Linked DNA regions of Homo sapiens. The protein of the gene in region 1 purifies or fractionates together with the protein of each later gene. This does not show direct contact. Each region holds a gene or a part of one and is shown on either strand. Other genes may lie near its edges.

Region 1 (2,874 bases):
ATTTCATTTATCGCCTGGGCATTCACGACCTGAGAGGCTTAGCTCTGGGTCAAGTTGAGCCCTCTCTGTCCCTGGCCAACAGGAGAAAGGCAAAGGCTGAATGAGTCTCGGGGACTGTCTCTGCTTTGCAAGTGGGCCCTGAGGTGAACAGGGACCTTTCCAAATTAATGCATCCACAGCGGTTTGGCAAAGTCGGGCTTTAAACCAGGGTCACTCTCCAGGGGTTGCCTATGTGATGGGTGGTCTGATGGACAGAAACACAGAGGGTGGGCAAGACACAATTTTGGGTGGGGCAGCAGCTTGATGATCTGACCATCTGACCATGGGAAAGTATATCACATGCCAAAGGTTGAGGGGTCTCTAGGTTTAATTCCTAGGAGGACATAATGAAGAAGGCTGCCTGGGCTCCAACAAAGCAGGCTGGAGGCAGGGCCACACAGACCGTGGGAGAGGGGATTGTGAGCAGAAGGGAAGGCTGAAAGTGAACCCTAGACACTCTGTGAGGACAGCAAGGACTAGAAGGTGGGATTCCTTTGACACCTGGGTTTCTGGTTCACCCCTGACACAGGAATCCTGGCAAATGGCGTCGTGCCAAGCCCCACCCTCAGTGCTCTGGACCTGCCGCAGGGATACCCTTGCCCACAGCTGGAAGACTCTTGCCCCCGCTGTGGGCCTTCCCACTGTGTTCCCACTGATACTTTGCCTTCCTTGGCTCTGAACCCCTAAAATCTCTGCTGGGGTCTGGGTCTAACTAATGATGAAGTAACGGAAAGTGAACAATCATAAACTAGATGACAGAGAGGCAGAATGTGAACAATAGCGGCTGATCTCTCCCTGAGAGAGAGGTGGGATCTGAGTCCTGAGAGATCACGGAGGGGTCAATCCTGAGCTGATCTGACCCAGGGTTCTGCACTCTTTTGTCTCCTTCCTAAAGGCAGAAGATCCACCTAGAGGTGATACCACGGCGGCGCAGAGTTGTTCACCTGTGGTCCTCGATCGCTGACAGCCTTGGCTCCCACTGCTGTGTGTTCCCTGAGTCAAGTGGAGGCGGAGCCTGCAATGAGCGGAGATCGCGCCTCTGCATTCCAGTCTTGGCAACAGAGCAAGACTCCGTCTCAAAAAAAAAAAATTTTTTTTCAGTACATATTTTTTAAAAGATAGGGCTGGGCACAGCAGCTCACATCTATAATCCCAACACTTTGGGAGGCCTAGGCAGGAGGATCACTTGAGCCCAGGAATCTGAAGCTGCAGTGAGCCTTTGCTCGTGAGATTGTGGACCTATGATCCTACCACCAGCCCACCTGGTTCTAACACCCCCTCCTCTATGTGTGAGAGGGAGAGAAGAAAAGTGAGGGAGAAAAGAGAGATAAGCAAAGAACAGAGAGGAAAAATGGAAAATAAGAGGAAATTGGGGGAATTAAACAGAGGGGAGGGCATGGATCCCCGGGAGTTAGAAGAGTAGCAGCTTGTGGATTACTACGCAGTGGAGGAAGAAGAGTTGTTGGAAATTATTTGAGAGGTAGTATAATCATTTGTGAGGCAGTTTTCTGCATTCACCATTTCTCACAGACTAAGTTACTCATAAGCAAACGTGCAATTCACATTACACTGAAATTCTTCCCTAATACATCATTTGCATTGGAATAAAGTACGGTTTTCAAACAACCTGATATAGCAGAACTGACTGTATAAATTATGTGAGCACAGTGCAAGTAATTCTTTGTTTGTTTGTTTGTTTTTTTGAGACAGAGTCTCACTCTATCTCCCAGGCTGGAGTGTAGTGGTGCGATCCCGGCTCACTGCAACCTCGATCTCCCAGGCTCAAGCGATTCCCCTGCCTCAGCCTCCTGAGTAGCTGGGATTACAGGCATGAGCCACCACGCCCGGCTAATTTTTGTATTTTTAGTAGAGACGGGGTTTCACCCTGTTGGCCAGGCTGGTCTCGAACTACGGACCTCAGGTGATCTGCCCCCCTCAGCCTCTCAAAGTGCTGGGATTATAGCATGAGCCACTGAGCCCAGACACAAGTAGTTCTTTCTGATAAACACTTTAACACTGAATGCAAAAAAAAAAAAAAAATTGTGTGTGTACTTTTTTTAATTTTACTTTAAAATAGACACACCAAACATGTTTCTAAATAAATGTAATATGGAAATCTTTCTTTTTCTCCTCCATTCTCAGTGATGATATGGTTGTAAATTCTTATCATCTGATAATTTTTATCAGATCTTTACAAATTATAAACTTATTTGCAACTCTGTTTTCAGACTATCCCTTCTATTATGATCATGAAACTGAATTAAATAGGTAGCTATTTTTTTGACTTTTACTCCTTTATTTTTATTTTCATAGTTTTACAAGAATATAATATATGTAATCTGTCTTCCATTTTAAACCTAAAGTCTTCCTAATCTCTTCTTCATAGTTTCAACAAACATAAAGGTAACAATTCAAAGCACCTGTCGCTTCGACAAGAAGATATTTTACATATTTAAAAAAACAGATAACAATTTTAAAATACTTGCTATAAGAATAAAATTGTATTTAATAAGTAGAACTAAAATTTTGACTGATGTTGCAATAGATTTGGTGGGGGCTTTTTTTGTGGGTCTTTTTTTTTTTGAGTCAGGGTCTTGCTCTGTTGTCCAGGCTGGAGTACAGAGGTGTGAACGCAGCCCACTACAGCCTTGAACTCCTAAGCTGAAACGATCCTCCTGCTTCAGCCTCCCATACTGCTGGGACCACAGGCATGAGCCATCCCACCCAGCTAATTTTCAGATTTTTTTTATAGATATGGGCGTTTCACTATGTTGCCTAGGCTGGTCTCAAACACCTGGGCTCAGGTGATCCCCTGCCTCAGCCTCCCAAATCGCT
Region 2 (3,656 bases), on another chromosome or scaffold:
CATAGGGAAGTCTAAGCAATTTGGCCTTTTTGAAATGAAAATAGTGTCTCAGAATCCCCGCAAAGCCTCTGGGTTTTCAGGAGTGTCCACTGAAGTCCCCCCTTCCCCAGGACCTTTGTCATTTGAGACATGCTCTAACCTGGCACCAGTCTTGTGTCTTCTCTAGCCTCCCCTGACTGTCTGGCTTTTATGTCTGCACAGGAGCGTTCCTGGGTGCCTGTGTGGCTGGGTCTGATGAGCCTGGCCCAGAGGGCCTCACCTCCACCTCCCTGCTAGACCTCCTGCTGCCCACTGGCTTGGAGCCACTGGACTCAGAGGAGCCTAGTGAGACCATGGGCCTGGGAGCTGGGCTGGGAGCCCCTGGCTCAGGCTTCCCCAGCGAAGAGAATGAAGAGTCTCGGATTCTGCAGCCACCACAGTACTTCTGGGAAGAGGAGGAAGAGCTGAATGACTCAAGTCTGGACCTGGGACCCACTGCAGGTAGCTCTTCTTACCTACAGAGCATGTGTTGAGTGCCAGCCAAGTGTCTAGGCAAAACACCAGGTGACCATTTCCTTGCCAGAAGCATCTCTTCTCTCTCCCTACAGTTTTTACCATGCTGCTGCTGTTTACCTGCACATCAGAGCAAAGGCTCTGGGACCCTGAATGTCTCACAGGCCCAGGAGGCCCTTTCTCTTTAATACTAACCACTGTTTAGGGAGCCTTTATTCTGTGCTCATTTAATTCAATCTGATGCTTATAACCTGAGAGATAAGTAATATGACCCCCCTTGTAGACAAGAAAACACTGAGACTGAGAGGTTAAAAGCTGGCCTGAGGTCAAACAGCAGCTCAGATGCTCAGTCATGATTCAGACCTATGGCTTTCCAAGCCCTGGGGCTCATTGTTTTGTTTTTCCCTACTGCTCTATGCTGTCTCTGTTGAAGATTGCCACAAGGTCAGCTGATCCATGTTTCCTTGAGTCTATCCGACCAGCAATTGAGGCATTCTAACCGCCCTTCCCTCAGTCATGCACCAGAGCTAGAGCTGGTGTTTGGATCTACAGAGCCCAGCTGGTGAACATTTGGGTCCCGAAGAAAGCCCGAGGCCTAGGGCTCCAGGTTTGAATGCCCACCGCCATGAGCTGACATTGATACAGATGCAGGCATGGCCCCTCCACCAATGTCCTGGGCCAGCAGGGCCCCATCTCTTAGTAGGGACTGAGGAATTGGTGTGATTGTGTGTGCACATGGGGCAAGGTGTTACAGAACTTAACCTTTAATTTTTCTTTTTAAAATAGGTAATATTTATTGGATTTACCTTTTCTAATTATAAAAGAACACATGAACATTGTAGAAAATCTGAAACACACAAAAATAATACAAAGAAGAAAATAAGGCTGGGTGTGGTGGCTCACGTCTGTAATCCCAGCACTTTGGGAGGCTGAGGCGGGTGGATCACTTGGGGTCAGGAGTTTGAGAACAGCCTGGCCAACATGGTGAAACCCTGTCTCCACTAAAAATACAAAAATTAGCTGGACATGATTGCGGGCATCTGTAATCCCATCTACTCAGGAGGCTGAGGCAGGAGAATGGCTTGAACCCGGGAGGTGGAGGTTGCAGTGAGCTGAGATCGCACCACTGCTCTCCAGCCTGGGCGACAAGAACAAAACTCTATCTCAAAAAAAAATAAAATAAAATAAAAAATAAAAACTACCTATAACCTGATAATTGAAAGATAATTACTATTAGTAGTTTGGGGATACATTGTTCTAGTCACTTTATGTGCAAAATTGGAATCATAGGGACATTTTGTTTTCACTCAAAATATTTCATAAGTATATTTCCGCATTGTTAAATATCCATTTATAACCTGATTTTTAAACATGTTATTATTTATTTATTTTTTTGAGATGGAGTCTTGCTCTGTCACCTGGGCTAGAGTGCAGTGGCGTGACCTTGGCTCACTGTAACCTTCATTTCCTGAGTTCAAGTGATTCTCCTGCCTCAGCCTCCGAGTAGCTGGGATTACAGGCATGCGCCATCACACCCAGCTAATTTTTGTATTTTTAGTAAAGACAGGGTTTCACCATGTTGGCCAGGCTGGTCTCTAACTCCTGACCTCAAGTGATCTGCCCGTCTCGGCCTCCCAAAGTGCTGGGATTACAGGTCTGAGCCACCGCACCCGGACAACATGTTATTATTTATTTATTTATGTTTAGAGTTGAGGTTTTGCTCCATTGTTCAGGTGTGATCATAGTTCACTGTAACCTCGAACTCCTGGGCTCAAGCGATCCTCCCACCTCAGCCTCGTAGGTAGCAGGGACCAAAAATGTGCCACCATGCCTGACTAATTTTTTCATTTTTTTGTAGTGATGGGGTCTTGCTATGTTGCCCAGGCTGGTCTTGAACTCCTGGGCTCAAGCGATCCTCCTCCCTTGGCCTCCCAAAGTGCTAAGATTATAGCTGTGAACCACTGTGCCTGGCTTATAACTTGATTTTTTTTTCTTGAGACGGAGTTTTGCTCTTGTTGCCCAGGCTGGAGTGCAGTGGTGCCATCTTGGCTCACCACAACCTCCGCCTCCCAGGTTCAAGCGGTTGTCCTGCCTCAGCCTCCTGAGTAGCTGGGATCATAGGCATGTGCCACCATGCCCGAATAATTTTGTATTTTTTTTAGTAGAGACAGGGTTTCTCCATGTTGGTCAGGCTAGTCTCGAACTCCTGACCTCAGGTGATGTGCCCACCTCGGCCTCCCAAAGTGCTGGGATTACAGGCATGAGCCACCGTGCCCAGCCCTGATTTTTAACAACTACGTTATATTTCATCATGTGGGTCATCAGGTGTATTAAACTGGTTCCCTACTGTTGAATACTTAGGTTGTCTTCAGTTTTAATTCTGCTACAAATATCCTTACACATTTTCGCACCTTCCTGGTGGTTTCCTTAGGATAAATTTCTAGAATAAAATTGATAGGTCAAAAGATGTATTAGGGCCGGGCACGTGGCTCACGCCTGTGATTCCGGCACTTTGGGAGTTCGAGGTGGGCAGATCATGAGGTCCGGAGTTCGAGACCAGCCTGGCCAACATGGTGTAACTCCGTCTCTACTAAAAATACAAAAATTAGCCAGGTGTGGTGGCGGACGCCTGTGAACCTAGCTACTCAGGAGGCTGAGGCAGGAGAGTTGCTTGAACCTGGGAGGTGGAGGTTGCAGTGAGCTGAGATTGCACCACTGCACTCCAGCCTGGGGGACAGAGCGAGACTCCATCTCAGAAAAAAAAAAAAAAAAAGATGTATCAGTCAGCATCCCACGCGGAAACAGAAGACACAATCAAATTAAAACAATCTAAGGAGAGTTTGTTTATGAAGCAGCAGATTTATGAAGGTATGGGCTGGATACAGGTGAACTACCAAAGGACTCACAAGTCCTTTGGCTAAGGATCTGTGGCTAGCAACAGCTGAGTGCTTACCATCTCTAGGCACAGTGAGACCAGGGAAGGGATGAAGATGGGAGCCTGCAGGGAAAGTGGTGTAGAGAGGTGGCCAGATATGGGAGGAGACGAAGAGAATGAACGCCGCACCCCCCACCAAGTGTTCTCTCTTTCCCTTGTCAGTTTGATAGGAAAAATTATAATGGCCTTTGATTACTAGTATATTTTAACTCATATATGTACAAAACAT
Region 3 (3,756 bases), on another chromosome or scaffold:
ACACATAGAGAAAAAATCCAGATACAACTACTCACTGACATACAAACCAACTTAGAAGTAGCCATTCATTCACTCGCAAACATTTTTTGAGTACCTACTACGTACCAAGTAGTACCACAGTACCTGTGGAGATAGAGAACTAATGTAAGCCATTCACTCCAAGGGCCTATCTAATAGGAAAGACGAGACAGTTTTTGCACAAAGTTCAATTAATGTTTTGTGTATATGAATAAATGTTTCCTATCTTTTCCTTATGCTCTCTCCAGGTTGCAACGCATCATTATCATCATCATAAATATATACAGTATACTATATGTAGAATATATAATATACATATTACATAAATTCATATAATTCCATGAAAGACTGGAAGGACATACTCCAAAATATATTTTTAAAGACAGGGTCTCGCTATGTTGGCCAGGTTGGTCTTGAACCCTAGGCCTGGCCTCAAGCAATCTTCCCCTGCCTCAGCCTCCCAAAGTGCTAAAATTACAGGCGTGAGCCACCATGCCCTGCCAAAACAGTCCCTTTACTAAAATATTAAACACTGGTTATCTCTATTCTTTCATTTGTGCCAGATATTTGAGCTAAGCCAGAAGAGAATTTTTTATGGTGATGGTTGTTTATATTATCATTACTATCGTTATTAGAATGACTGTACCATCTCTTTCCTCAACTCATTCATAATCTAGGAGAAAGGTTAAAAAAAAAAAAGGAATAAACACCAAGTACGTGGAACTGCACTATTTAGTGTTTTTGTAAGTCTTCCAGGCATTGTGTAGTAAGCGTGTAGAAATAATTGTAGTTTCTCCTCCAGTTATTTTCTCAGTTGGAGGAGAAAGATTCCAATAACTGTAAATAAATACGGCTGAGCCATATTTTTAAGAAATAAAAACGCATACGCTTACACACACACATATATATTACGTATATATACACTCCACCCGCCCCATTTACCAAAATGAAGAGCAGTACAGCTTAGTAGCTAAGAGCACGGGCTCTGGAGTTTACTTTCTTCCTGTCCTGCAGCGATTGTGGGGAAGTCAGGTCACCTGTCTGCCTCTCCGTTTCCTCATCTGTCAAATGGAGTTCTGGGTCCCTATAAAGATTCAGTGACGCGATATGTGAGGGGCTTGGAACAGTGACCGGCACGTAACCGCCCACAGGTTAACAGCTGCTATCACTTGGTGGGGTGATGGTTTGTATCCTATCGTTATTAATACGGCTGTCTCTAGATGAGCAAACATGCGCTCTCACTTCTTCCCACATTCAAGAATGGGGTCCCAAACGAGAGATTCGACGTAAACGTCCGCTCCCAACTAAGTTCTCAGGCGCTGACAACGACAAGAATTCCTCACACAAACGTAGCGCTTCAATCACTAAACCGCTTTCACAGCCCTCGACCCTGCCGCGAGATGTCCGCCGCCCACCGTCAGGTCACCGCCTCCCTAACGACTTCGGCTGCCCGGGCCCTGCCCCTGAACCTCGCACCCCTCCTGCCTCGTTCAGGAAGCTCCGCACCTATCCGGCCGCCACCCTCAGCACAGCCACGGCAGCCGACTCGGCGTTCCTACTGCCCCGGAAGTGCTCCTTCAGCGCAGAGGCGTGCCGGTGTGTCCGAGAAAACTTCCGAGTTAAGCCGCCGCTGAGGCCGGAAGGAGCTAGACGGCGGTCGGGTAGGTGACGGCTTGGTTGGGGTCGCTGCGAGGGGACTACTAGGAGCGCCGAGGCGTGAGTCGTAGCCTGTGGCTTGGGGTCGGGAGTGCAGGAGGCGAAAATGTTTGCCATTCTTTTGAAAGTCTGGCCTGGGTGTGGGAGTTCGGTCATCGAACACTTACTGAGAGCCAGATACCTGCCAGGCACTGCCCTGGGCTCCAGGGACACATCAGTCAACGAACGGAAGGGCCCTGCTCTCAAGCAGTGCGAAAAGCAGATTATAAACAAGTCAACAAACGGGATTATCTAAGGTGGTAGTAAGTGCTGTAAAGAAATTTAGACTGGATAATGTGATGGAACGAAGTGGGAGAGTAATAAGCCGTATGAAAATCTGGAATAGAGCATTCCAGGCAGAGAGAATAGCGCGTGCAAAGGCCATATAGTGGGAACAAACTTAGCAAAGTCAAGGAAAAGACAAAGGCCACTGGCTAGAGCAAAAGGAGCAAGGTGAGAATGGAGAGAGATGAGGCCAGGGACTTGAGCCCAAATCTTGTAAGGCTTATGAGCAAGGATAAAGAGTTTGATTTTTGTTTGGAATCCAGTGGAAAACCATTGAAGGTTTCTAAGCAGATGAATGACATGATCTGATTTATGACTCTAAGATTACTCCTGGGACCTCATCAGAAAGATGCAACTCTTCTGTTGCCCTCGAGCAGTGAAAATGCATGAAATCCAGACTGACAGAGCTAGTAAAATATTAAAATCAATCTTATTGTACAGATAAGAAAAACTGAATCCCAGAGAGGTGAAGGGACTTAGCCTTTAAGAACTCATGTTTTCCAACTCCATTTAATGCCCTCGGAATTATCATCTTAATTCCCAGATAAGAGTAATTGTCACTTCTAAAACTCTTCAGATATTTTCCTTTGCTTTTGACAGTGGTTCTCTAAATTTAGGTTCATCAATATCACCTGGAAGCTTGTTAAAATTCCAAAAAACAACAACAAAAAAACCCCTGCTTAAATATAAAATGGATCATTTCCTCTGATTTTCTGTTGTAATGGAAAATGCATAGAATTTGGGGCTAAAGTATGGAATCTTGGGAAGCCACTTATTTTTTAAATGCTGCTGATAATTATAGCAGCAGTTCTCAAACTTTTTGATCTTAGAATTTCTTTATACTTTTAAAATGTATTGAGAACTTCAAAGGGTTTTTGTTTATAATAGCTATCAATATTTACTATTTTAGAAAACAACTTTCAACAAAGGTTATTCATTTTAAAATAAACTCATTATATGTTAACATAGATAGCATTTCTGTAAAGGATATTTTCCAAAATGAAAAATTATTGAGAATGGCATTGTTTTACATTGTTACAAATCTCTTTAATGTCTGGCTGAATAAAAGACAGCTAGATTTTCGTAACTTCTACCTTCATTCTCTTACAATATCAATCATCATGTAACTTTTAGAAAATTGTGCCATATTGTGTGAGAATGTGAGTGAAAAAGGGATATGTCCTAATATTATGTAAATTGTTTTGAAACAGTGTCAGGGACACCCAGGAGTTCCTGCACCACACTTTTGAGAATTACACTGAATTACGGTGATTGTCATGCCAGTAAAAGAAATATGAGTTTGATTTGTAAATCAATAAACCTATATGCACATTAAAAATGCAGATGCCCAGGCATCCCCTAGAGATCCCAATTCAATAAGTCTGTGGGGTCAAGAAATCTGCATCTTTAACAAGCACCACAAATTAATTTGATATAAATGGTCTGAAAATTACAGAGTGAGAAAACCAGTCAAATGATTCTCTAGAGTGTTCTGCCTACTAAAACTCAAGATAGGTGTCTTTCTTATCTTCACCTCTCTCCATCAATAGTTTCCAGAGCCTGAAGCTCTGGAAAGTTAATAAGTTTGTAGCAGACACCTTTCACACTACCAAGTCGATGAGTGTCTGAACTCAAAATTTTGAGCACTTGCCACAGGCAGTGGCCCTGTGCTAAGGACAGAAGGTTTTTAGACTCTATCATTCATAAGCTTACAGTCTTTTGAACGGATAACTAACTGCTAAGAGGAAAACTGATAAG

What was found.
Region 2: the proteins of RAET1E (region 1) and PODXL2 purify together in Homo sapiens (affinity purification with mass spectrometry; 2 studies listed by BioGRID and IntAct, with this or other methods). This does not show direct contact.
Region 3: the proteins of RAET1E (region 1) and MFAP3 purify together in Homo sapiens (affinity purification with mass spectrometry; 2 studies listed by BioGRID and IntAct, with this or other methods). This does not show direct contact.

What each region holds. Positions count from the first base shown.
Region 1 is NC_000006.12:149,882,565-149,885,438, reverse strand, and holds the end of RAET1E (retinoic acid early transcript 1E isoform 1 precursor), read left to right. Parts: 3' UTR 1-934; coding exon of another isoform or gene 935-951; 3' UTR 952-2,260; downstream 2,261-2,874. UniProt on the Homo sapiens protein: Binds and activates the KLRK1/NKG2D receptor, mediating natural killer cell cytotoxicity.
Region 2 is NC_000003.12:127,639,044-127,642,699, forward strand, and holds part of PODXL2 (podocalyxin-like protein 2 precursor), read left to right. Parts: intron 1-201; coding exon 202-480; intron 481-3,656. UniProt on the Homo sapiens protein: Acts as a ligand for vascular selectins. Mediates rapid rolling of leukocytes over vascular surfaces through high affinity divalent cation-dependent interactions with E-, P- and L-selectins.
Region 3 is NC_000005.10:154,037,333-154,041,088, forward strand, and holds the start of MFAP3 (microfibril-associated glycoprotein 3 isoform 1 precursor), read left to right. Parts: upstream 1-1,634; 5' UTR 1,635-1,679; exon of another isoform or gene 1,680-1,976; intron 1,977-3,756. UniProt on the Homo sapiens protein: Component of the elastin-associated microfibrils.